Linked DNA regions of Homo sapiens. The protein of the gene in region 1 purifies or fractionates together with the protein of each later gene. This does not show direct contact. Each region holds a gene or a part of one and is shown on either strand. Other genes may lie near its edges.

What was found.
Region 2: the proteins of ZBTB38 (region 1) and ZCCHC17 purify together in Homo sapiens (affinity purification with mass spectrometry; 2 studies listed by BioGRID and IntAct, with this or other methods). This does not show direct contact.
Region 3: the proteins of ZBTB38 (region 1) and MRPS35 purify together in Homo sapiens (affinity purification with mass spectrometry; 2 studies listed by BioGRID and IntAct, with this or other methods). This does not show direct contact.
Region 4: the proteins of ZBTB38 (region 1) and NEMF purify together in Homo sapiens (affinity purification with mass spectrometry; 2 studies listed by BioGRID and IntAct, with this or other methods). This does not show direct contact.
Region 5: the proteins of ZBTB38 (region 1) and YTHDC2 purify together in Homo sapiens (affinity purification with mass spectrometry; 3 studies listed by BioGRID and IntAct, with this or other methods). This does not show direct contact.
Region 6: the proteins of ZBTB38 (region 1) and ZNF689 purify together in Homo sapiens (affinity purification with mass spectrometry; 3 studies listed by BioGRID and IntAct, with this or other methods). This does not show direct contact.
Region 7: the proteins of ZBTB38 (region 1) and EIF5B purify together in Homo sapiens (affinity purification with mass spectrometry; 2 studies listed by BioGRID and IntAct, with this or other methods). This does not show direct contact.

Annotation. Positions count from the first base shown.
Region 1 is NC_000003.12:141,375,001-141,378,505, forward strand, and holds part of ZBTB38 (zinc finger and BTB domain-containing protein 38), read left to right. Parts: intron 1-3,505. UniProt on the Homo sapiens protein: Transcriptional regulator with bimodal DNA-binding specificity. Binds with a higher affinity to methylated CpG dinucleotides in the consensus sequence 5'-CGCG-3' but can also bind to E-box elements (5'-CACGTG-3').
Region 2 is NC_000001.11:31,359,529-31,363,033, forward strand, and holds part of ZCCHC17 (zinc finger CCHC domain-containing protein 17), read left to right. Parts: intron 1-59; exon of another isoform or gene 60-1,269; coding exon of another isoform or gene 1,270-1,302; intron 1,303-3,505.
Region 3 is NC_000012.12:27,724,330-27,727,834, reverse strand, and holds part of MRPS35 (small ribosomal subunit protein mS35 isoform 1 precursor), read right to left. Parts: intron 2,259-3,505; coding exon of another isoform or gene 2,250-2,258; exon of another isoform or gene 1-2,249.
Region 4 is NC_000014.9:49,797,285-49,800,789, reverse strand, and holds part of NEMF (ribosome quality control complex subunit NEMF), read left to right. Parts: intron 1-93; coding exon 94-370; intron 371-1,111; coding exon 1,112-1,154; intron 1,155-1,265; coding exon 1,266-1,315; intron 1,316-3,505. UniProt on the Homo sapiens protein: Key component of the ribosome quality control complex (RQC), a ribosome-associated complex that mediates the extraction of incompletely synthesized nascent chains from stalled ribosomes as well as their ubiquitin-mediated proteasomal degradation.
Region 5 is NC_000005.10:113,555,192-113,558,696, reverse strand, and holds part of YTHDC2 (3'-5' RNA helicase YTHDC2), read right to left. Parts: intron 2,646-3,505; coding exon 2,563-2,645; intron 1-2,562. UniProt on the Homo sapiens protein: 3'-5' RNA helicase that plays a key role in the male and female germline by promoting transition from mitotic to meiotic divisions in stem cells.
Region 6 is NC_000016.10:30,604,722-30,607,392, reverse strand, and holds part of ZNF689 (zinc finger protein 689), read left to right. Parts: intron 1-1,945; coding exon 1,946-2,671. UniProt on the Homo sapiens protein: May be involved in transcriptional regulation.
Region 7 is NC_000002.12:99,399,107-99,401,830, reverse strand, and holds the end of EIF5B (eukaryotic translation initiation factor 5B), read right to left. Parts: intron 2,525-2,724; coding exon 2,417-2,524; 3' UTR 591-2,416; downstream 1-590. Other genes in the region: DNA repair protein REV1, read left to right, coding at 479-590. UniProt on the Homo sapiens protein: Plays a role in translation initiation.

The DNA.
Region 1 (3,505 bases):
CCCTCCCAATTCTTCTGCATTAATGCCTGAGAACTATTGACATGCTGCATTCAGTTCAACAAATATTCAGTTGGCAAACATTTATTAGACAAAAAAAATTAGGAAACTCTGAGCTAGTATGTCTATGCCAGAATTTAACTTAAAGTCTTTTTTTGGCTTCTGATTTTTAGATTTTCCTTTAACTGTAATATGATGTAGTAAAAAGATTATTAGCTAGGGAATCAAGAAACCATATTGTACACATGAAATCACTGAGGCCCATAATGGTTCATTTACTTCCTGGTGGTCACTCAGAGATTTAATGGCAAAGGTTGAACTAGACAAAGGGCCCAGAGTCACCCAACCTTTAGGTAAGAGACAAAAGGCGCCAATGAGAAGATTCACTCCTGAGGCAACGCCCTGCCTCAGCCAAGGAGCTCTTACCTGCCCTCAGATAGGCATGCCCGTACTTCAAGACACTCTTGGGCAGCCTAGACCTAGCAAGGGGCCCACGTGCCCATCTTGGTCACCTAATGGGGCCAGACTGTGGTGTGCCCTGATCCCTGAGGTGGTAGCACTGAAGAAGCTGGACCCAGGAGGACAGAGGGCAGCCGTGCAGGCAGCATCCATGTGATCAGCATCACAAGAGCAGAGTAGGAGGTGGGATCTGGGGTCAGAAACCAAGACAGCGGAGCAGGGTCAGGGCAAGTGCCAGACTAAAATATGTGGGCAAATTTGAGGTCAAGGCAGGGATGAGTTGAAAGGAAGACAAGCAAGAGCTAGAGGGGAACTGCTGAGGATTTGGCCTCAAGGATGGAGTCCCACTGTGTGACCTCACAGTCAGGGGAGGTACCTGCCCCAAGCCGTGCCTGCCTTTTTAAATCTGAAAGGTGCTGTGTGCTGGGCTGCCTTCTGACAGCAGGAGAGTAGGAGCACAGCCTGAGAGGCGGCAGGCCAGAGCAGGAGGAACCTGAAAATGGAAATTTAGGAAACAATGGAAAAAACAATTATAGCAACAAAAAACCATTTTCTTTAAACTCTCACCATCCTCTAAGAGGAAGTCTGACTATTCATCCTGCCTGCATAACCCTGCTGAAACCCATCAACCCACACCCACTGATCACCTGACAGTGTCTGACTGCCCGGCTTCCTCTCATCCCACCACCTCAATTTCCAGAGCCCACCAAGGCATCACTTGACTTTCAAGTTCTGCCTGGACAGACTGCTCAGCTCCCTACCCGCCCCAGTTCACGTTCAGGTTCTTGAAATCAACTTTAGTTTCCTCCATGCCTACATCTATGCTGATCCCCTGCAAAGGCACCTGGTGACACACAAGAGCCAGAACCCAAAGGAGCTCCTCCACAGGATCCTCCCAGGGCTTAGCCACCAGGGAATTTTGTTGATGATCCCCAAGCTTCACTGCCCCATGCAAGTCTCCATTATCTCAAGGTTATCCCTGTTCAGGATCACTACTCTCCTGATTCTTGGCCTCCTAGTCCAAACTCATGGCTCCAGGGTCATGATGAGTAAGAGTTCTGGAAAAGTCTACAACCTCCCTTGAACCAGAGGTACCTTGAATCAGATGGAGGGTGACTTTCCAAGAATGCCTGGGCCGGTTCAAGTCTTCACTATAATGTTTGCCTTATGTAAAACCCATCACCTTGTTGTCCTGCACAACTTTCTTGAGTGAAGCACCTCTGATACTCAGATGACATTCTAATTGCTCACGAGACCTGGACCCCTGGGCCAGGAAAGCCCATGTGGTGGTGACAGCAGTGCTTCCAAATCTCACCCACAGGAGACAAAAATAGGAGTTCCATGGCATCCAGACAAGGTGTCCACATGCTGCTGGAGAGTCTTGGGTGGTCACAGAGTACAAAGTTCAAGGGCAAAGATTGTTCAGTGGGTCCCAAGATTTGACAAGTGCTACTGGTGGTCCCACCCTTGCCTCTCTACATTGATTCCATGTCCCACTTCCTCTCACACTATGCTGATAACGATCTAACCTGAGAAATTAAAAGTATTCACACAGCCTCTGGCCAAAGCTACAGGAAGACCCTGGCCCAGGCAAACTCTGTTCCTGCCCCACAGCTGTCATTTCACCTGCCCTACCCCATGGGAGCATGTACCACTGGTATCAAGTCTTCCTGCTGGGCCAAGAGGCACTGCCTCAAAGAGGCCCAGCATCCCCAGATAGCAATGTCCCACCACTGCAGTCAGGAGCAACTGGGCAAACCCAAAGACTCAGCCCCCCCATCCAGAAAGACCATCCCATTTTCCATCGCCTAAGTGCCAGACAGCCCAAACTGCTGTGTAGACAGCTACCAGGAAAACTGGAGCAATGAGAGACATCTGAGGTCACCCCAGCTAAGCTCAGAAGGCCACAGAGCTTAACTGCCTTCTTGACTGTGGCCCATCAAAAGGAGCCCGACACATCTAGTAGATGGCTTAAATAAAAAATACTGAGGTTACCAAATGCTGGCAAACATGTGGGGACACTGGATCTCTCCTACATTGCCTGTAGGAATGTAAAATGGTACAGCCACTCTAGGAAACTGTTTGGCAGTTTCTTATAAAAGTTAAACATATACTTACCACGTGATCCAGCAATCCTACTCATGGGTATTTACACAAGAGAAATGAAAACTTATGTTCACGCAATAAACTTTACATGAACATTTATAGCAGCTTTATTTGTAATACCTAAAAACTGGAAAATAGCCAAATGTTTTTCAGCAAGTTAGTGGGTAACACACTGGTACATCCACACCTTGAAATACTATTCAGCAATAAAAAGGCATGTGCTCTTTACATACAATTCAAATGGATCACAAGGGCATTATGCTGAAAGCCAATCTCAAAGAGTTATATGCTACATGATTCCATTTAGAGAACGTTCTTGGACTGACAAAATCACAGTGATAGGCCATGCACGGTGGCTCATGCTTGTAATCCCAGCACTTTGGGAGGCTGAGGCAGGAGTGCCCAGGAGTTCGAGACCAGCCAGGGTAACACAGGGAGACCCGCATCTCTACAAAAATTTACAAAACTAGCGGGATATGTGGGCGTGCACCTGTGGTCTCAGCTACTTGAGAGGCTGAGATGGGAAGACTGCTTGAGCCCAGGAGTTTGAGGCTGCAGTAAGCCATGATTTTGCCATTGCACCCCCAGCCTGGGTGACAGAGCGAGACCCTGTCTCAACAAGCAAAAAAAAAAAAAAATTACAGTGATAGAGAACAGATCAGTGGTTGTCAGGATGGGTGTGATTATCAGAGGAGGAGCACAGGGAACTGTGGTGGTGACTATTCTCTATTCTGATGGTGATGGTCATCACTCCAGCCTGCACATGTGATACGTTGCATAGAACTGTAGACATACAGGTACACACACACACACACAGAGTGCATGTAAAAACTGGTAAAATCACATAAGACTGTATCTGCGTTTATTTGAACTATACCAGCATCTGTTTCTTGGTTTAGCCCAAGTACTACAGCGATGTAAGACAACACTGGGGGAAGGTGGA
Region 2 (3,505 bases), on another chromosome or scaffold:
AATAAGTAAATAAATAAAATAGAAAATTAAGTACTCAATAAATGTTCACTGCTATATTCTCTTTTTTCAGTTTTTGCTTTTATTTTTGTTTTTCTGTCACACTGGGCTGCTGCTATCCTGTTTCAGAACTATAGTGAAAATGGGTAGACTAGCTGCTCTAACAAGGGATATGTGCTTTTCCTAGAGAGCAGTCTTTGAGATGTTTGACCAGTGGCTTCCTTCCAGTGCCCCCTTGACCTGCGCCATGGGCTCACACTCCTATGCCATTTAAAAACTGTTTTATGTTTAATTTTCTATTTCCATCTGATACTTGAATCCATGTCATTTTTTTTTAACCCATTATCTTCTGTTTCCCTTCTCACTTGAATGAAGTTGAGAGAGCAGAAGCTTGGTTCATCTTCTGGCTCTCAGTCTTCCCCCACCCCAACTCCCAACTTTGCTTTTGAACTACAACCTTTTTTTTTTTTTTGAGACGGAGTTTCCATCTTGTTGCCCAGGCTGGAGTGCAATGGCACAATCTTGGCTGACCCCAACCTCTGCCTCCGGGTTCAAGCAATTCTCCTGCCTCAGCCTCCCGAGTAGCTGGGATTACAGGCATGTGCCACCACGCCCGGCTAATTTTGTTTTTGTGTGTGCGTGTTTTGTTTTGTTTTGTTTTGAGACAGAGTTTCGCTCTTGTTGCCCAGGCTGGAGTGCAGTGGCGCGATCTTGGCTCACCAAAACCTCCGCCTCCCACGCTCAAGCGATTCTCCTGCCTCAGCCTCCCGAGTAGCTGGGATTACAGGCATGTGCCACCACGCCCAGCTAATTTTGTATTTTTAGTAGAGATGGGGTTTCTTCATGTTGGTCAGGCTAGTCTCGACCTCCTGACCTCAGGTGATCCACCCACCTTGGCCTCCCAAAGTGCTGGGATCACAGGCGTGAGCCACCGCAACCAGGCGAACTACAACTTCGGATGTGATTGTTCTTTTGTTCTGTAGCTCAAGGCTAGACACGTAGGGAAAATGACGCCATTTGCTGGAGGATTGGATTGTCTTTGTTCAGGCTGCAAAACAGCTTTTGCATCAAAGTTGAGGTCTAGGAGAAGGCCACCTCCTTGAGCCCTTCTTGCTAGCTAGAGTCCATGTTCCAGCATGCCAGGACTCTCCAGTGATTTGTTTTTATCTTCCCTCCTCCTGAGCCTTCATCTTTGAGAGAGAACAAAGTGGAAATAGTGCCAAACTCTGTGTTATAAAGTATAGTGGTTTTGCCGCTTTAGCCTTGGTCGACTCACTTTACATTTCTGAGTTGCAGTTTTTCCATCTGTAAAATGGGAATAATAACTCATGAAGTTTGACTCTACAGACTATTATTGTAAGATAAGGATGCAAAAAGCTTGATAAACTAAAGCACTGTTTAGGTGTAAGGCAGTATTATTACTCTCCTCACTTCTTTATCCAGGCTGGACCAGGCTTGCAGGGAACTGGTGCCAGACTCTGTATTTTCATTTTTACTTTCCCAGGATATTCACCTATATAAGGGGCAGAACCCAGTGAGGCTCCTGACCCCATAATATCTTGTGATGGACTTCCATGGTCTTGCCATCCAGGAAGGTTCAGCAACATAGCTAAACTATTGATTTGCCAACTCTCAGCTCCTCCCAGCCATGGTTGTTATAGCTCGGTAATGTGGGTCTGAGAAGCTTTGTTGCCTTCTCTCTACTCCATTGGAGATGCCAAGGAAGAATTGTTATTTCATCTTCTCTTAAAACTTTGACTTGTCTCCTGTAGATGCTTGGCCAGGCTGTCAGAACATCCTGGGAGTTAATGAGAGAAAAATACATATAGCTCCCACTAAGTGCCTATAATGTGTCAGGCACTATAGTTAGTGCTTATCTTGTTTAAACCTCATAGCATCCTTTGAAATAGGTACTTATTATTTCCAGTTTACTGAAAAGAAAACTGAGGTTCAAAAAAGTTAAATCCCTTGTTCTAAGTCACATAGTGAGTTAAGTTGCAGAGCTAGAATTTGAACTTAATTCTATCTTATTCCAAAATTTGTTGTTCTAATGACCATACCATGAGGCCTCCTGTTACCATACAGAAAGAGGGGCCATGTGCTACATAGGAAAACTCAGGAGATTTCCATTCATATGATCTACATGAAGATCCCAACTGCGCCTATGCGATCTGGGACAAGTGGCTTTCAACTTGTCCAAGCCTTAGATACTATCTCATTAACTTGTCACCATAGGTGTTTTTTTTGGGGAGAGGGGGAGATTATTTATTTATTTATTTATTTATTTATTTATTTATTTATTTTGAGACAGGGTCTTGCTCAGTTGCCCAGCCTGGAGTGCAGTGGCAGGATTATGGCTCACTGCAACTTCCAGCTCTTGGGCTCAAGCGATCCTCCCACCTCAGCTTCCTGAGTAGCTGGGACTACAGGCCCGCGTAACCACACCCGGCCAATTTTTGTATTTTTAGTAGAGACAGGGTTTCACCATGTTGGCCAGGATGGTCTCGATCTCCTGACCTCATGATCCACCTGCCTTGGCCTCCCAGAGTGCTGGGATTACAGGCATGAGCCACCGCGCCCAGCCAGTAGATGTTATTCTTATCTCCAGTTTACATTTGAAGGGAACAGGCCTCAGTGAGTTCAGATGACTTGCCCACGGATGCAGAATAGTAAATGGCAGAGCCAGAACTCAGGTCCAGGTCTATCTAACACCTGCTTCAGTGTTCTTTCCACCATTTTTCACAGCCAGCTTCTAAGACCTGGTGTATCATTCAGCTAGATTTATAGCTCTGAGGCTGCTGGTTGGAAGCTGGCATCCTTTTCTGCTCTCTTTCTCCTCCCATACTTTCTCCCTCTTCTTAGAAACCTTACAGAGGCAATATAGGTATTTGAAATTCAAAGAAGAGATTTATGCCGTGCTTAAAATCTGCTCATACTGCCCCATTAGACACCTGGGAATCTGCCTCTCGTCTTTTGTATGGGTTTGTACTGTTACTTTGGTAGCATGATGTGGTGGGTATAGTTTTGGGAATGTTCTTTCTCAGCTCTTTTCTTTATGAGTATAATCTTGTGAGGTGGCTGTAAAGTTAGAGATGATGAATATTCAAGGGTAGCAAGTACAGGCTTATTATTTGATGGCAGTTATTTCCCCTGGCACCAGGATCTAATAGAAACCAGAATAGCAGTCAGGAGTTCTAAATCTTTTACTCCTATTCTTTGACCTTGGATATGTGAGTCACTGTTTCTAGATAGACTGGCTAGTCTTTAGGGGCGCCTTTCAGCTTTAATGTCCTGCACTTTAAAAAATGAAAGTAATAAGATACTTGTTTAAAAAAAATCAAATTAGACAGAAGTATTTGAAGGAAAAAGTGAAAGACCCATATCCTTTCCCCCATTCAGTTCATTCCCAATGTGTAACACTTATTACCAGTTTGATGTATCCTTTTCAGTGTTCTCTGTGTATACTAAATATACACAAGTATGTGTAACATACACAGTTTATATCATG
Region 3 (3,505 bases), on another chromosome or scaffold:
TGAATTTACAAGCGTTCCTGGAACCAATCCCAAACAGATACTGAGGAACAACTGTATGATAATTAACAAACAATAGGTCATAGATCTAAATGTAAGAGCTAAAACTATAAAACTTTTAGGAGGAAACACAAGAGTGAATCTTTTATGACCTTGAATAAGACAATGATTTCTTACATATGACACCAAAAGCACAAGAAACAAAAGGAAAAATACTGTCATACGCCACTTAACAATATTTTTTGACAAAGACATGGCTAGGTGATTTTGTCATGTACAAACATCATTATGTATTTACACAATCCTAGGTGGTACAGCCTACTACACACCTAGACTACATGGTATAGTCAATTGCTCCTTGGCTACAAACCTGTGTAGCATGTTACTGTTAAATACTGTAACAACTGTAACAAAATTGTACTTGTGTATTTAAACATATCTAAACATAGAAAAAGTGCAGTGAAAATACAGTATTATAATCTCTTGGGACCACTGTTGTGTATGTGTTTATCACTGACCACAACATCATTATGCAGCACATGACTTACATAAATTGGACTTCATCAAAATTAAAACTTCTGTGCTTAAAAGGCTCACGCCTCTAATCCCAGCATTTTGGGAGGCTGAGGCAGGCAGATCACAAGGTCAGGAGATCGAGACCATCCTGGCTAACACGGTGAAAACCCCATCTCTACTAAAAATACAAAAAATTAGCCAGGCGTGGTGGCGGGTGCCTGTAGTTCTAGCTACTCGGGAGGCTGAGGCAGGAGAATGCTGTGAACCCAGGAGGCGGAGCTTGCAGTGAGCTGAGATCGAGCCACTGCACTCCAGCCTGGGTGACAGAGTGAGACTCCGTCTCAAAAAAAAAAAAAAAAAAGGACATCATCAAGAAAGTAAGAGGACAACCCAAAGAATGGAAGAAAATGTTTACAAATCATATATCTGAGAAGGGACTGGGACTGGTGTCCAGAATATATAAAATACACTTATAACTCAACAATCGAAAGATAAACAACCCAATTAAAAAACAGGCAAAGGATATGAACAGACATTTCTCCAAACATATACAAATAGTCAACAAGCACATGAAAAGATGGTTATTAGGGAGACACAAATCAAAACTACAATGATACTTTCATACCTATCAGAATGGCTAAAACTAAAGGACAGGTAATAACCATTAGTGAGGATGTGGAGAAATAGAAAGCCTCAAACTTGCTGGTGAAATTGTAAAATAGTGAAGCCACTTTGAAATTGTTTTTCAAAAACAGTTTGGCAGTTCCTCAAAATGTTAAATATGGAGGTGCCATGCAACTCAGTCATTCCACTGCTAGGTATATACCCAAGAGAATGGAAAACACATATCTACACAAAAACCTGTATGTGAATGTTCAACAGCATTATTCATCCAAAAAGTAGACACAACCCAAATGTCCACCAATTAATGAATGGATAAATAAAATGTGGTATATTCATAAAATAAAATATTTGGCAATAAAAAGAAATGATAAAATAATACATGCTACAACAGATGAAACCTATTGAAAACATTACACTAAGTGAAAGAAAACATATTGCATGGTTCCATTTCTGTAACACATCAAGAATAGGTAAATCCAGAGACAAAAAGTAGATTAGTGGCTAAAAGGGGCTTGAGGATGGTTAAGGGGGGAATTCTATAGCAAGTGAACTATGTCTCAATAAAGCCATTATTAAAAAGAAACAACGGCCCTGTAGTGGTGGCTCACATCTGTAATCCCAGCACTTTGGGAGCCCAAGGCAGGCAGATCGCCTGAGTCCAGGAATTTGAGACCAGCCTGGGCATCATGGCAAAACCCTGTCTCTACAAAAATTCAAAAAAATTGGCCAGGCATGGTGGCACACTCCTGCAGTTCCAGCTACTGCTCAGGAGGCTGAGATGGGAGAATCACTTGAGCCCGGATGGAAGAGACTGCAGTGAGCCAAGATCGCGCCACTGCACTTCAGCCTGGGTGACAGGGTAAGACCCTGTCTCAAAAAAAAAAAAAAAAAAAAAAAAAGGTATACAAGGAATCAATACACCACCAAAATGAGCAAATGACAAAAAATACATGTTTTGCAAAGGAATAAATCCTCAACCTCACTAGTATTCAAAGACATACAAATTTTAAATATAAGACAAATTTTTTACCTATCAAGTTGACAGGTAATATGTAGGTTGGTGAGAGCACAGGAAAGCAGGCCTTCTCACATTCTGCTGGGATTATATTTTTTTACATTTCCTGCAGGAATTTTATAATATATATCAACAAACTTCAAGAGCTATATCCTTTGACCTCATAGTTCTCCTTTCAGGAAGTTATCTTAGGAACATCATTAGAAATACATACAAATATTAATACCTAAGAATATTCATTAAAATATTTTTCTAATAAAGAAAACCATTAAAAAGCCTAAAGGTTCCATAATACAGATAAATTATGGTAGCCCTGTATTATGAAATTATTTATATATCACACTTCAGTCTCAGAAAAAAGGCTAAGTTTGAAGTGATCAACATTACACCCCCAGATTCAAACACTGTCTTGGTACATAACAATCTCTCATTTATACGTTATTCTATGCAGCCATTAAAATTAAATTAGATTGGGTGCAGTGGCTCACACCTGTAATTCCAGTGCTTTGGGAGGCGGAAGTGGGAAGATCACTTGAGCCAGGAGTTCAAGAAAAGCTGGGCAACAAAGTGAGATCCTGTATCTACAAAAAATTTAAGAAAATGGGCTGGGCAGTGTCTCACACCTGTAGTCCCAGCCACTTTGGAGGCTGAGGCAGGACAATCAATTGAACCCAGAAATTGGAGGCCACATTGAGCTATGTTAGTGCCACTACTCTCTGCCTGTCAGATCTCATCTCAAAAAAATTCAAATTAAATTAAAGAATGTTTAATATTATTGGGAAATGTTTAATTCTTGTTAAGAGACTGCTGAACACATACAGTATCATCCCATTAATATACACAAAGGCAGGCTGTGACTATATACTAAAATGAGCTACTATAGTTAACAGTGGTTACAAATAGTAGATTTACGGGCAATTTTGTAATTTTTTTTTTTTCCGAGATGGAATCTCGCTCTGTCACCCAGGTTGGAGTGCAGTGGAGCGATCTCAGCTCACTGCAACCTCTGCCTCCCGGGTTCAAGCAATTCTCCTGCCTCAGCCTCCGGAGTAGATGGGATTACAGGTGCCCACCACCACGCCCAGCTAATTTTTGTATTTTTAGTAGAGACGGGGTTTCACCATGTTGGCCAGGCTGGTCTTGAACTCCTGACCTCAGGTGATCCGCCTGACTCGGCCTCCCAAAGTGCTGGGATTACAGGCAGGAGCCACCATGCCTGGTGTATAATTTGAAACTTGTATTTTCCAAAATTTCTGTGAAAAATATTACAGTTTTATAATCACACATATCAATTTCTTTCTTTATTTTTAGAGATAGGTTCTTGCTATGTTGCCCAGGCTGGCGTCAAATTCC
Region 4 (3,505 bases), on another chromosome or scaffold:
GGAGAAACAGTGGAATATTTTTATGACATTTTTAGGAAATCACCTGGCTTGGTTGGTAGTCCCACACTGACTTTCCTTATGATAATTCTACAGATGGAGGTGACACGAGCAGTGATGAGGATAAAGAAGAACATGAAACTCCTGTGGAAGTAGAACTCATGACTCAGGTTGACCAAGAGGATATCACTCTTCAGAGTGGCAGAGATGAACTAAATGAGGAGCTCATTCAGGAAGAAAGCTCTGAAGACGAAGGAGAATATGAAGAGGTTAGAAAAGATCAGGATTCTGTTGGTGAAATGAAGGATGAAGGGGAAGAGACATTAAATTATCCTGATACTACCATTGACTTGTCTCACCTTCAACCCCAAAGGTAATTAAAAAATAAAATTTTACATATTATTGTGTAAGCTGAGAATGATGATGAGGTAATCCTTACAAAGATAATACCAAGATTGACATCAGTACTTTTACACTCCATTGTCTTAATACTTTTTCAACATTTGATTGGGTCTCTCTGCAAAGAAATTCCCAGGACCAGGGTAGAAAAATACAGTGCATATAGAGTGGCCAAACTAGATCCAAATAGAAACAAGTAAATGGTTATAAATGCTAAAAACATAACAAAGGCAATTCCATCAAAGAAATGTGTTTTAGTCTATATAATGTTTTGCAGATCATCAGGTGAATAGTCCATAGTTATAAATGCATAATTAACTTAGGGGTAATTCAGAACAGTCTAGGAGTCAGACAGACCAGTATTGGGTCTTAGGGTGCGTCCTTGGGAAAATTACTTTGTGCTTAAGCTTCAGTTTCCTTCTTGGTGAAAACAGAATGGTATCCCTTTCATAGGGATTTGGTGAAGGTTTCATGCGTGTATACCATCTGGCAGTGCCTGACACACAGTAAGTTTTCAATACACGTCACCTATTTAAAAATGTATATGGAAGTGTGGAGAGAGGAGCAATTTGGTTGTATGTTTTTCTCACTTCACCAAATTTGAAAATTTGTTGGATTGCCAGTACTTAAGAGTATGATATGGGAATGTTTTGGGACTTTGTAAATGCATGTCTTTTACAGGCTAGTAGAGACTCCCTTGTGTTTATTTTCATAGGTCCATCCAGAAATTGGCTTCAAAAGAGGAATCTTCTAATTCTGTAAGCTATTTTCAGTTTTATGAAGAACATCCGATTCTCAGTGAATAATTTTCTACTTTTCAAAAAAGTTAATAGTGATATTTGCATTTGCCTGTTTTTTTGTTTTAATAGAGTGACAGTAAATCACAGAGCCGGAGACATTTGTCAGCCAAGGAAAGAAGGTAAACACATCTGTGTTAATTAACTAAAAAGCATGTTTTTCTTTTTTTTTTAATTGATAGCTCAGCTACCACAGATTACTTAGCTGTTTAAAGACTTCCTTCATTAAATTTACCAAGATTTAGCACAAATGTTTAGTTTTTAATATTAAGCTCTAATACATTTTTCTGTTTAAGGGCCCTAATCTATAACTATAATCAATGAAATAGACCTAGTAGAGTAAGTCCTCACTTAACATTTTCCTTTTTTTTTTTTTTTTTTTTTTTTTTGAAACAGGGTCTCGCTTTGTTGCCCAGGCTAGAGTGCTATGGCGCAGTCATGGCTCACTGCAGCCTCAAACTCCCAGGCTCAGGCAGTCTCCTGCTTCAGCCTCCTGAGTAGCTGGGACTACAGGCGTGTGCCACTACAAAAATTTTTATAGTTTTTGTAGAGACAGGGTTTCATCATGTTGCCCAGGCTGGTCTTAAACCCCTGGGCTCAAGTGATCCTCCCACCTTGGCTGCCCAAAGTGCTGGGATTACAGACATGAGCCATTGTGCCCGGCCTTCACTTAACATTTTCTTTTTTTTTGAGATGGAGTCTCGCTCTGTCGCCCAGGCTGGAGTGCAGTGGCATGATCTCGGCTCACTGCAAGCCCCACCTCCCGGGTTCACGCCGTTCTCCTGCCTCAGCCTCCCGAGTAGCTGGGACTAGAGGCGCCCACCACCATGCCCGGCTAATTTTTTGTATTTTTAGTAGAGACGGGGTTTCACCGTGTTAGCCAGGATAGTCTCGATCTTCTGACCTCGTGATCACCCGCTTTGGCCTCCGAAAGTGCTGGGATTATAGGCATAAGCCACCGCGCCTGGCCCACTTAACATTTTCAATAGGTTCTTGGAAACTTGGACTTAAGGGAAACAGTGTGTAATGAAACCAGTTTTGCCATGGGCTAATTGATATAAACAAGAGTTAAGTTCCTCTGGCATATTTTTGGTCACAAAACCATCACCAAGCTTCTAAATAAAGACTGAAAACTCTTCTAATATTAAACGTTAAAATAAATGTAAACTGTATGTATATTTAAGAAAGATGAATGAAAGCGAGCAAGATAATTATTTACCCAATTTTTGGTAAATCAATGAGTGATGGCAGTTGTAGTGGTAGTGGGTTAAATCAAGGATTATTTGCAAAGTGAAAACTATAGAGTACCTCCTACTACCATGAGGTTCAAAAACAAAAATGTGGCACATTCATTAAACACTTTCATACTACATTGTTGATTGTTATACATTTGTATGACTATAGTTTATGAATTTTTGACAATCATTTTTATTAAGTCATTCATTCATTCATTCATTCGTTTTTCAACCGCTTATTCCAGTTAAGGGTCATTGGTGGCTAGAGCCTATCCTGGCAGGTCAGGGCAAAAGGCCAGAACCAACCTAGAACAGGATGTCATTCTGTTGCAGGGCACACATACCTGCACTCATTCATGCTGGGATAATTTACACACACCAGTTAACCTGACATGCGCATTTTGGGATGTGAGAGAAAACCTGAGTACCTGGTGAAAACCCACAAAGACATGGGGAGAACATGTAAACTCTGCACAGATGGTAGCCGTGGCCAGGAATCAATTTTGTTCTCATCAAAGTTATAACACAATGATGTTGAATGAAATGATGTTATTTGAGGACTAGCTCTAATAAGACCTTTTATTACATAAACATGTACAATAATGATTTCAGTGTATTACATAGACTAGTTCTAGGGTGATATTGTCAGGAATAAATATGAATACCTGAAATTAGGAAAGTTTTATGTAAGGCAGAATAGTTGATTTTTTGTTTTTTGTTTTTTTTGAGACGGAGTCTCGCTCTGTGGCCCAGGCTGGAGCGCAGTGGCTGCGATCTCGGCTCACTGCAAGCTCTGCCTCCCAGATTCATGCTATTCTCCTGCCTTAGCCTCCCGAGTAGCTGGGACTACAGGCACCCACCACCACGCCCGGCTAATTTTGTTTTTGTATTTTTAGTAGAGATGGGGTTTCACCGTGTTAGGCAGGATTGTCTCGATCTTCTGACCTCGCGATCCACCCGCCTTGGCCTCCCAAAGTGCTGGATTACAGGTGTGAGCCACCGCGCCTGGCCGATTTTTTTTTTTTTTTTAATAGCAGGTCTCAGGAAGCAAGTAGAAGCAAGGGAAGGGCGGAAGGG
Region 5 (3,505 bases), on another chromosome or scaffold:
CCGCCTCAGCCTCCCAATCCACTTCGATTTTCTACAGGCAACTCAAACTCAAAATAACCAAAAATTAATTATTCTCTCCAGTGAAAACACTCTTCCAATTTTCCCTATCTGACTATGGCACTACTGTCCGATTTTTTAAGACAGAAACCTGGATGACATCCTTAACTCCACTCTCTTCCTTACCCCTCACCCCCTACATACACAATCAATCACCAACATTACTTTCTTTAGTATCTCTTGAATTAATTATCTATTTATTTTTATTTCCACCACCACTAAAACAATCCAGACTACTTTCATCTCTCCCTTATTATAGGAAAGTATTAATGAAGAAGCCTCCTACTGGGTCCTCCTACCATCATTTTTGTTCCTGCCAATCCATTCTTCAGAGAGCTGAAAGAATACTATACTCATGTCATCCCACTGTTTATTTTTTTAAAAAAGAGAGAAAACTCAAAATGGTCCTTAAAAACTTGTCCCCAACTTTCAGCTCATTTTTCACTATTCTCTAAACTAAATTCTATCCAAACATCCTCCCTATTCACTCTTGCCTTTAGGCAAATAAGTATACCTGGTTATACTTTCCCTCTGCCTTTTAGAAATGCCTCCCCCTTTATTCACAATTGTCTCAGATTCATTCTTAACAACTCTGGAAACATCCAGTTGTAGCACAAATAACACTGTATTAAAATTGCTTAATTTACTGGACTCCCACATGGACTGCAACATTTGCCCTACCTCCAGCTTTACCTATCAGGCTATGGTTTATTTATCACTATCCGTAACATGTGCACAGGGAAGACTTTTGATAAACATTTGTTGAAAAATGGCAATGAAAATTTTTGCAGTTCTGGCCTTCATCTCCAATAATATACTATTTGTTATTTTATTTTTTTTGAGACAGTGTCTGGCTCTGTCGCTCCGGCTGGAGTAGAGTGGTATGATCACAGCTCACGGCAGCTGCAGCCTCGACCTCCCAGGATCAGATGATCCTCCCACCTTAGCCTCCCAAGTAGCTAGGCCCACAGGCCTGTGCCACCACACCTAGCTGATTTTTTAATTTTTTGTAGAGACAAGGTCTCACTATGATGCCCAGGCTAGTCTCAGACTCTTAGACTCAAGTGATCCTTCCACCTCAGGCTCCCAAAGTGCTGGGATTACAAGCATAAGCCACTACACCCAGCCTTACCCACAATAATATACTATTAATAGCAGGGACATCCAGCTTAATGTATCAAGCCACTATTGGTCATAAGAAAACAACTGACATAACAACAACAAAGCCCTCATGGGCATTCTATGAAGTTACAAAGTAAAGAAATAATGCACATGAGTCTTCAGTATATGAGGCATTCTTTGAAAGTCAGCATTTCATGTTTTCCTGCTAATTATAATAAAATGCAAGATAAATATTTACTGAAAATGATACTTTTTAATGTTATCTTTTGAAAATTAAAAAGTAACCCAAACACTTAGTAAAATAACCAAATTACAAAAAAAATAAAATTGTCTCCTTACTCCAAGAACCCCACAAATCCTCCTTCTCAGAGTTAACAATCATTCATTGTTTTTTAATGTTTCTCCCAGACTTCTCGATGCATTTGTGTCAAAATACATACACAAACACACATATATTTTTCTTACCACAAAAGACTACTAGATGCATGTTCTGTATCCTTTCAATTAACAATGCATCCTGAAAACTCATTCCATATAAGAACACACAGATCTACATTTTTCCTTTTAACAGCTACCCAGAAAGCCACTGTGTGGCTATAATTTATTTAATCACTTCAGTATTGATGGACATCACACTGTTCCCAGACTTTACATTATTATAAACAATGCTTCAAAGAACAGTCTTAAACATACATCTTTGCACACGTGTGCAAGCATACTCAGGATAAATTATGACAAGTGGAATCTATGGTCAAAGAGTAGATTTGGATAAATAGTTTCAAATTGCACTCTGAAGAAGTCACACCAATCTATACTCCCATCAGTAAAATATGAAAGACTATTGGCCCATGTTTTTCCTCTATGTTGTACATACTGTTAAACATTTTCATCAATGCCCATCTGAGATTCAAAAAATAATACCTCATTAATTTGCATTTATTTAGATACATATTAGGTAGTATATGTGAGGTTAATGTATTAGTAGGACATGCATATTTTTTATTTTGGTAAATTGCCTATTTGTGCCCTTTATCCATTTTAACTGGATTATTGGCCTTTAGTTGATTTCAAAGAGCTTCTTTATATAATAAGGAAATTAGCTCTTTGTCCTACATTGCATATGTTTAGAATTTTTGGTTTTGTTTTTTAAGCTTCTTACATCTGAATGTACATTTAACTAGGCAAAAGTTTTTAATTTTAACATAACCTACATTCAACTTTTAAGGAAGTATCAAAATGGCTTGCTTTGCAAAAATAATATAAAAATTTTAACATGAAAACTACTATTTTATTGAACATGGAATATATGATAAATGTGTAATGCATATAAAAACGTTTCCATTTTACAGGCAATTGAATGAATATACATTAAATATACATTACCTGCCTTTCCGCTGTATGGCACTAGCTTTGGAAATCCATACCATTTTTAACATTGTAACAAAATTCAGAGCATCAAAGGATTTCTGTAATATTTAAACCATCTTTATGTTAGAATATAAAAGGTATTTAAAAGGTAATAGCAAGAATGTTATCAACATATTTTAACATGCCAAAAGTTTAATTCAAAGTCCTCTCTTGATTAAATAATTAAAACAGCAGTACTGATTTTTAATAAACCCTGATTTTCTGGTTACAAACATACTAAGAAAAAAGGATTTAAAAACTAAACTCAGAAGAGCGTAAAACTTCTCCATTCTGTGCTCTGCTGAGCTATTTGTTGCTCTCTGCCACAGCTGGATAATGGCAGCCAGTTCTCATAAGACATCAAGATTGGAGAGAACGGATCTATTCCCTTGAGGTCACTTTCCTATCAGATTTGCATCACTGTGCAGAATAAGAAGATCAAGGAAAGACATTTTCTGAAATACTTTTCAGGGACCTAACCTTGTGGAGTAAGAATAACAATCAATAATCTTATCCCAAAGAGAAATATTTTTAACCACTTCCACTTTACTTCCTGCTGAGCTACTAACAAAGTTAGCCTTTCCCGAACGTTACAATGAAGAAAGTAAAAAAGAACCATTGTTATCCACATACTTATTCAAATAACCTACAGTGAAAATTTATTGTAGAGAAATATTTTAAAGAAATACAAGCCTAACTAGAACATGTATTTCAGTCACTCGGTACTTATACTTTCCCTTTCATAAAATAACTGCATAGAGCAAATAAAAATGTTTGCATAATAGTTTATAAAATTTTTAGAAAACAGCTTATTTGGTTTTTAATATGACATTACATTTGTCAATTTTGTATGTTAAATAACTTTTGACACTACCCATGTTTTAAATTTCAGTTACTTAATAAATAAGTAACACCTAAA
Region 6 (2,671 bases), on another chromosome or scaffold:
TCTCGAACTCCTGACCTCACAGTCCGCCCACCTTGGCCTCCCAAAGTGCTGGGATTATAGGAATGAGCCACTGCGCTTGGCTGGGACTTACGTTTCTAACACTGCATAATTTTAATTCTTTTTTTTTTTTTTTTTTTTTTTTTTGAGATGGAGTCTCACTCTGTCATGCAGGCTGGAGTGCAATGGCGTGATCTTGGCTCACTGCAACCTCCGCCTCCCAGGATCAAGTGATTCTCCCACCTCAGCCTCTGGGTAGCTGGGATTATAGGCACCTGCTATTGTGCCCAGCTAATTTTTATATTTTTGTAGAGACGGGGTTTCACCATGTTGGCCAGGCTGGTCTTGAACTCCTGACCTCAGGTGATCCGCCTGCCTCAGCCTCCTAAAGTGCTAGGATTACAGACATGAGCCACCACGCCCAGCCACATTTTTTAAAGAATCAGCTAAGTCAAATAAACCATCCACAATGGAATTCTGTGTAGCTGTAAAATAGAAAAAAGATTTGCTGACATAAAATGATCTTTAGAATATATTAAGTGAAAAAATGTAAAGTGTGTATAAGGTGTGTATATGTTGTCTTTTGTATAAGAAAGGTGAGCTGGGCATGGTGGCTCACGCCTGTAGTCACTTTGGGAGATAGAGGTGAGCAGATAACCTGAGGTCAGGAGTTCGAGACCAACCTGGCCAACATGGTGAAACCCTGACTCTACTAAAAATACAAAAAATTAGCTGGGCATAGTGGTGCATGCCTGTAATCCCAGCTACTTAGGAGGCTGAGGCAGGGAGAATCACTTGAACCCGGGAGGCGGAGATTTCAGTGAACTGAGATCACACCATTGCACTCCAGCCTGGGTGACAGAGCGTGACTCTGTCTCAAAAAAGAAAAAAAAAAAGAAAGGTGGGGAAGAGAACATACGCTGTAAAGCATGTGTATGCAATCTCTTATGAAAGAAAGATAGGGAAGGTGACATTTGTATTGCATCAAAAAAATGGGAAAAAACTAATATGGTTTCTACAAGGTAGATTGGAAAAAGGTGGCAGCAAGACTTCTCTGTATTCCTTTATTAATATTTTGACTTGTTTGTTTTTTGAGATAGGGTCTTGCTGTGTTGCCCAGGCTGGAGTACAGTGGTGCCATCATGGTTCACAGTAGCCTTGAACTCCTGGGCTCAAGTAATCCTCTACCTCAGCCTTCCAAGTAGCTAGGACTACAGGCAGGCACGCGTGCCACCAGGCCAGGCTAATATTTGTATTTTTTGTAGAGATGGGGTCTCACTATGCTGCCCAGGCTGATCTTGAACTCCTGGGTTCAAGCGATCTCTTGCCTTGGGCTCCCAAAGTGCTGGGATTACAGGCATGAGCAACCATGCCTGGCTGATATTTTGACTTTTGAATGATGTAAGCTTACCTCTTCAAAAATATTCCTTTTTTTTTTTTTTTTGAGATGGAATCTCGCTCTCTCGCCCAGGTTGGAGTGCAGTGGCACAATCTCGGCTCACTGCAACCTCTGCCTCCCGGGCGATTCTCCTGCCTCAGCCTTCTGGGTAGCTGGGATTACAGGTGCGTGCCACCACGCCCGGCTAATTTTTGTATTTTTAGTAGAAACAGGGTTTCACCATGTTGGTCAGGCTGCTCTCAAACTCCTGACCTTGTGATCTGCCCGCCTCGGCCTCCCAGTGCTTACGATTACAAGCGTGATCCACTGTGCCCGGCCTCAATTTTTAAAGTTAGTTTAATCTCCGAGAAATCTTCCTAGACTTCTCCAAGCTGGGTTAGAAGCTCCTGTAATGCACACCGTATTTGCATGACAGTATGTCACACTTAGCTGTCTGTGGCACTAGGAATTGAGACCAGGGGGTGAGTCTATTGGTCTTGTAACCTATAATGTAATTGACAAGAGCAGGAGCCCAGTATTTGTTAAATTAATGCTTCTGTATTTCTATAGAAAGCAGAACCAGAAAGAAGAATGGGGAGAAGGAAGTATTCCCGCCTAAGGAGGCACCCCGAAAGGGGAAGCGAGGCCGGAGGCCCAGCAAACCCCGACTGATTCCTAGGCAGACGTCCGGGGGCCCCATCTGCCCTGACTGCGGCTGTACCTTCCCTGATCATCAGGCCCTGGAGAGCCACAAGTGCGCCCAGAATCTAAAAAAGCCTTACCCTTGCCCAGACTGTGGGCGCCGCTTTTCCTATCCATCCCTGCTGGTCAGTCACCGGCGGGCACACTCCGGCGAGTGCCCCTATGTTTGTGACCAGTGTGGCAAACGTTTCTCCCAGCGCAAGAACCTCTCCCAGCACCAGGTCATCCATACAGGGGAGAAGCCCTATCACTGCCCTGACTGTGGTCGCTGCTTCCGGAGGAGCCGGTCCTTGGCCAATCACCGGACCACACACACAGGTGAAAAACCCCACCAGTGCCCTAGCTGTGGACGTCGCTTCGCCTACCCCTCCCTGCTAGCCATCCACCAGCGTACACACACGGGAGAGAAGCCCTACACTTGCCTCGAGTGCAACCGCCGCTTCCGCCAGCGCACGGCCCTCGTCATCCACCAGCGCATCCACACGGGCGAGAAGCCCTACCCGTGCCCGGACTGCGAGCGGCGCTTCTCCTCCTCCTCTCGCCTGGTCAGTCACCGGCGTGTGCACTCTGGGGAGCGTCCCTATGCCTGCGAGC
Region 7 (2,724 bases), on another chromosome or scaffold:
CACTGCATGGCTCCAGCCTGATCGACAGCTTGTCTCAAAACAAAATAAAAAAAAATTTGAGTGTTCTAGGATTTTATTTTTTTTGAGATGGAGTCTCACTCTGTCGCCCAGGCTGGAGTGCAGTGGCAGGATCTTGGCTTACTGCAGCCTCTGCCTCCTGGGTTCCAGTGACTCTCCTGCCTCAGCCTCCCGGGTAGCTGGGATTATAGGCATGTGCCACCATGCCCACCTAATTTTTCTATTTTTTGTAGAGACGGGGTTTTACCATGTTGGCCAGGCTGGTCTCAAACTCCTGACCTCAGGTGATCCGCCCTCCTCGGCCTCCCAAAGTGCTGGGATTACAGGCATGAGCCACACCGCACCTGGCCAGGACTTTTTTTTTTTTTTGCCAAAGTCAATTTTTATATATAAAAAGGAATAATTAGTCTTAAGGACCTTTCCTAATTCCTAATGACATTTCTTCTCTCCCCACCTTTAGGCTGATGCAGCAATCGGTGGAATCGGTTTGGAATATGGCATTTGACTTTATTCTTGACAATGTCCAGGTGGTTTTACAACAAACTTATGGAAGCACATTAAAAGTTACATAAATATTACCAGAGAGCCTGATGCTCTCTGATAGCTGTGCCATAAGTGCTTGTGAGGTATTTGCAAAGTGCATGATAGTAATGCTCGGAGTTTTTATAATTTTAAATTTCTTTTAAAGCAAGTGTTTTGTACATTTCTTTTCAAAAAGTGCCAAATTTGTCAGTATTGCATGTAAATAATTGTGTTAATTATTTTACTGTAGCATAGATTCTATTTACAAAATGTTTGTTTATAAAGTTTTATGGATTTTTACAGTGAAGTGTTTACAGTTGTTTAATAAAGAACTGTATGTATATTTTGTACAGGCTCCTTTTTGTGAATCCTTAAAAACTCAACTCTAGGAAGCAACTACTGTTTATTATACTAAAAGGCTGAAAAACCTCCAGGCCAGACTGCTAAGCTCTGAAATTCCTGAGAGGTCTCAGACCGGGATTCTACTTGTTCCAAGAAAGGGTAAAGCTTCTAAACCATCTTATTCTTGTCTCCAAGCATGAACACAGGAGCATGTTAAGAAAATCTTTACTACTTCTTCCATGCGGAGAAATCTACATATTTTGAATTAGAAACACCCTCACACCCACTTGAAGATTTTTTTCCTGGGAACATTATGTCCCGTAGATCAGAGGTGGTGTTGTCTTTTTGCTTCTACTGGCCATTGAGAAACTTTGATGATAAAAAAGAACGGTATAGATTTTTCAAACGTATATAAAATATTTTTATGTTATATGTTATGCCATAACTTTAAAATAAAAATAGTTTAAAATTCTATGCTAGTGGATATTTGGAACTTTTTCCTCAAACAAACACCCCACACTGACTTCAGCAAAACCCTAAAACTAGCTACAGATTACTACTACGAATGAATCATTAAGTTTTGTGTCTGCAACAATTTAGAAGCACTAAGCCCAAATATCAGGAAATGTGTGTATGATGGAATTTTCTAGGACAAAACAGATCAAGATTAAAACAGATCAAGATTAATGTATAAAAATCTCTACTAAAACAGATCAAGATTAAAACAGATCAAGATTAATGTATAAAAATCTCTACTGTTACCAGGTGCTGGCATACAAGGTAGTGTGATGATAGTTTAGTTTGTAAGATAATTCTTGTCCTAGGAGGACAACTTGTGGGAGAGAAGCTACACTAACATGGAAGCCTAACAGAGCTTGCTTACTGGTGGATGTCTGTTTTCTTTATTGGTAGTTTGGTTTAGAATTGTGATGATTACAATGGACTCGTGACTACACAAGCAGTAAAAAGCAGCCAGCTGTGCTTTTACACCATGGTTTCACACAAAGCAGCTAAAGAAATATCAGAATGCCTAATTTTCTATTTTATAAAAGCCCTAAAGGCATATGGCAGAAGAATGCTGGAAAAATCACTGTGGGAAGAATATGCATAAATAAAGAAGTATTTCTTACGTCAAAAAAGTCCCAAGAATCACAAAATCTGCAGAAGCTTGGTTAATCAAATACTGCAGTACTGATTTAATCAGTATAAAATCGAAAGAGCTTTAGATCTGTAATAAAAATCCAAATTTGGGGAAGGGCAAACTTTAAAACAGCAGCCAAGTAGAGAAGGGTTGGGGAAGGGAGAGGTGAGTGAACAGGCACATTGGAACTGTGGGGACATGTAACTGACCACTGTCAAACCAGTGTAAGTTTCTTGGTTTCTCATGGAAAACATTTTATACACCTATTTTTCTTCCTTCCATACTTAAGTCCATCAGTGTCCAAATACGTCTGTTCCATTTTTTGTCTGATTTTTGTTGGGATATTACAACACAGTATTGCATTTACTCCAGTTCCTGCTCCATGTGAAAAAATTAGATGATTTCAAATACTTTCTTCAGCTCCACAATAAGCTGCCAGTCACTCTTCTGCATTTCATCTCTGAACCAGTCTTTGAGTGCATCAATGGACTGCCGGCTGATCTGCAATGCCCGAGGCACAAACAGGGTAAACAGAACATAACAAACGTGCCAAAGAAAGCTGTGGCCCCAGATGCCCGCTCTCACTGTACTAAAAAGCTTAAGCAGAAATAAAAAACAGGGCTTGCCTGCCTAAGGGAGTAGAATTCCAAAATCACATCTGGTTTGCATGTCAGGCACGAGGGGACCTAAAAGTCCTAGCT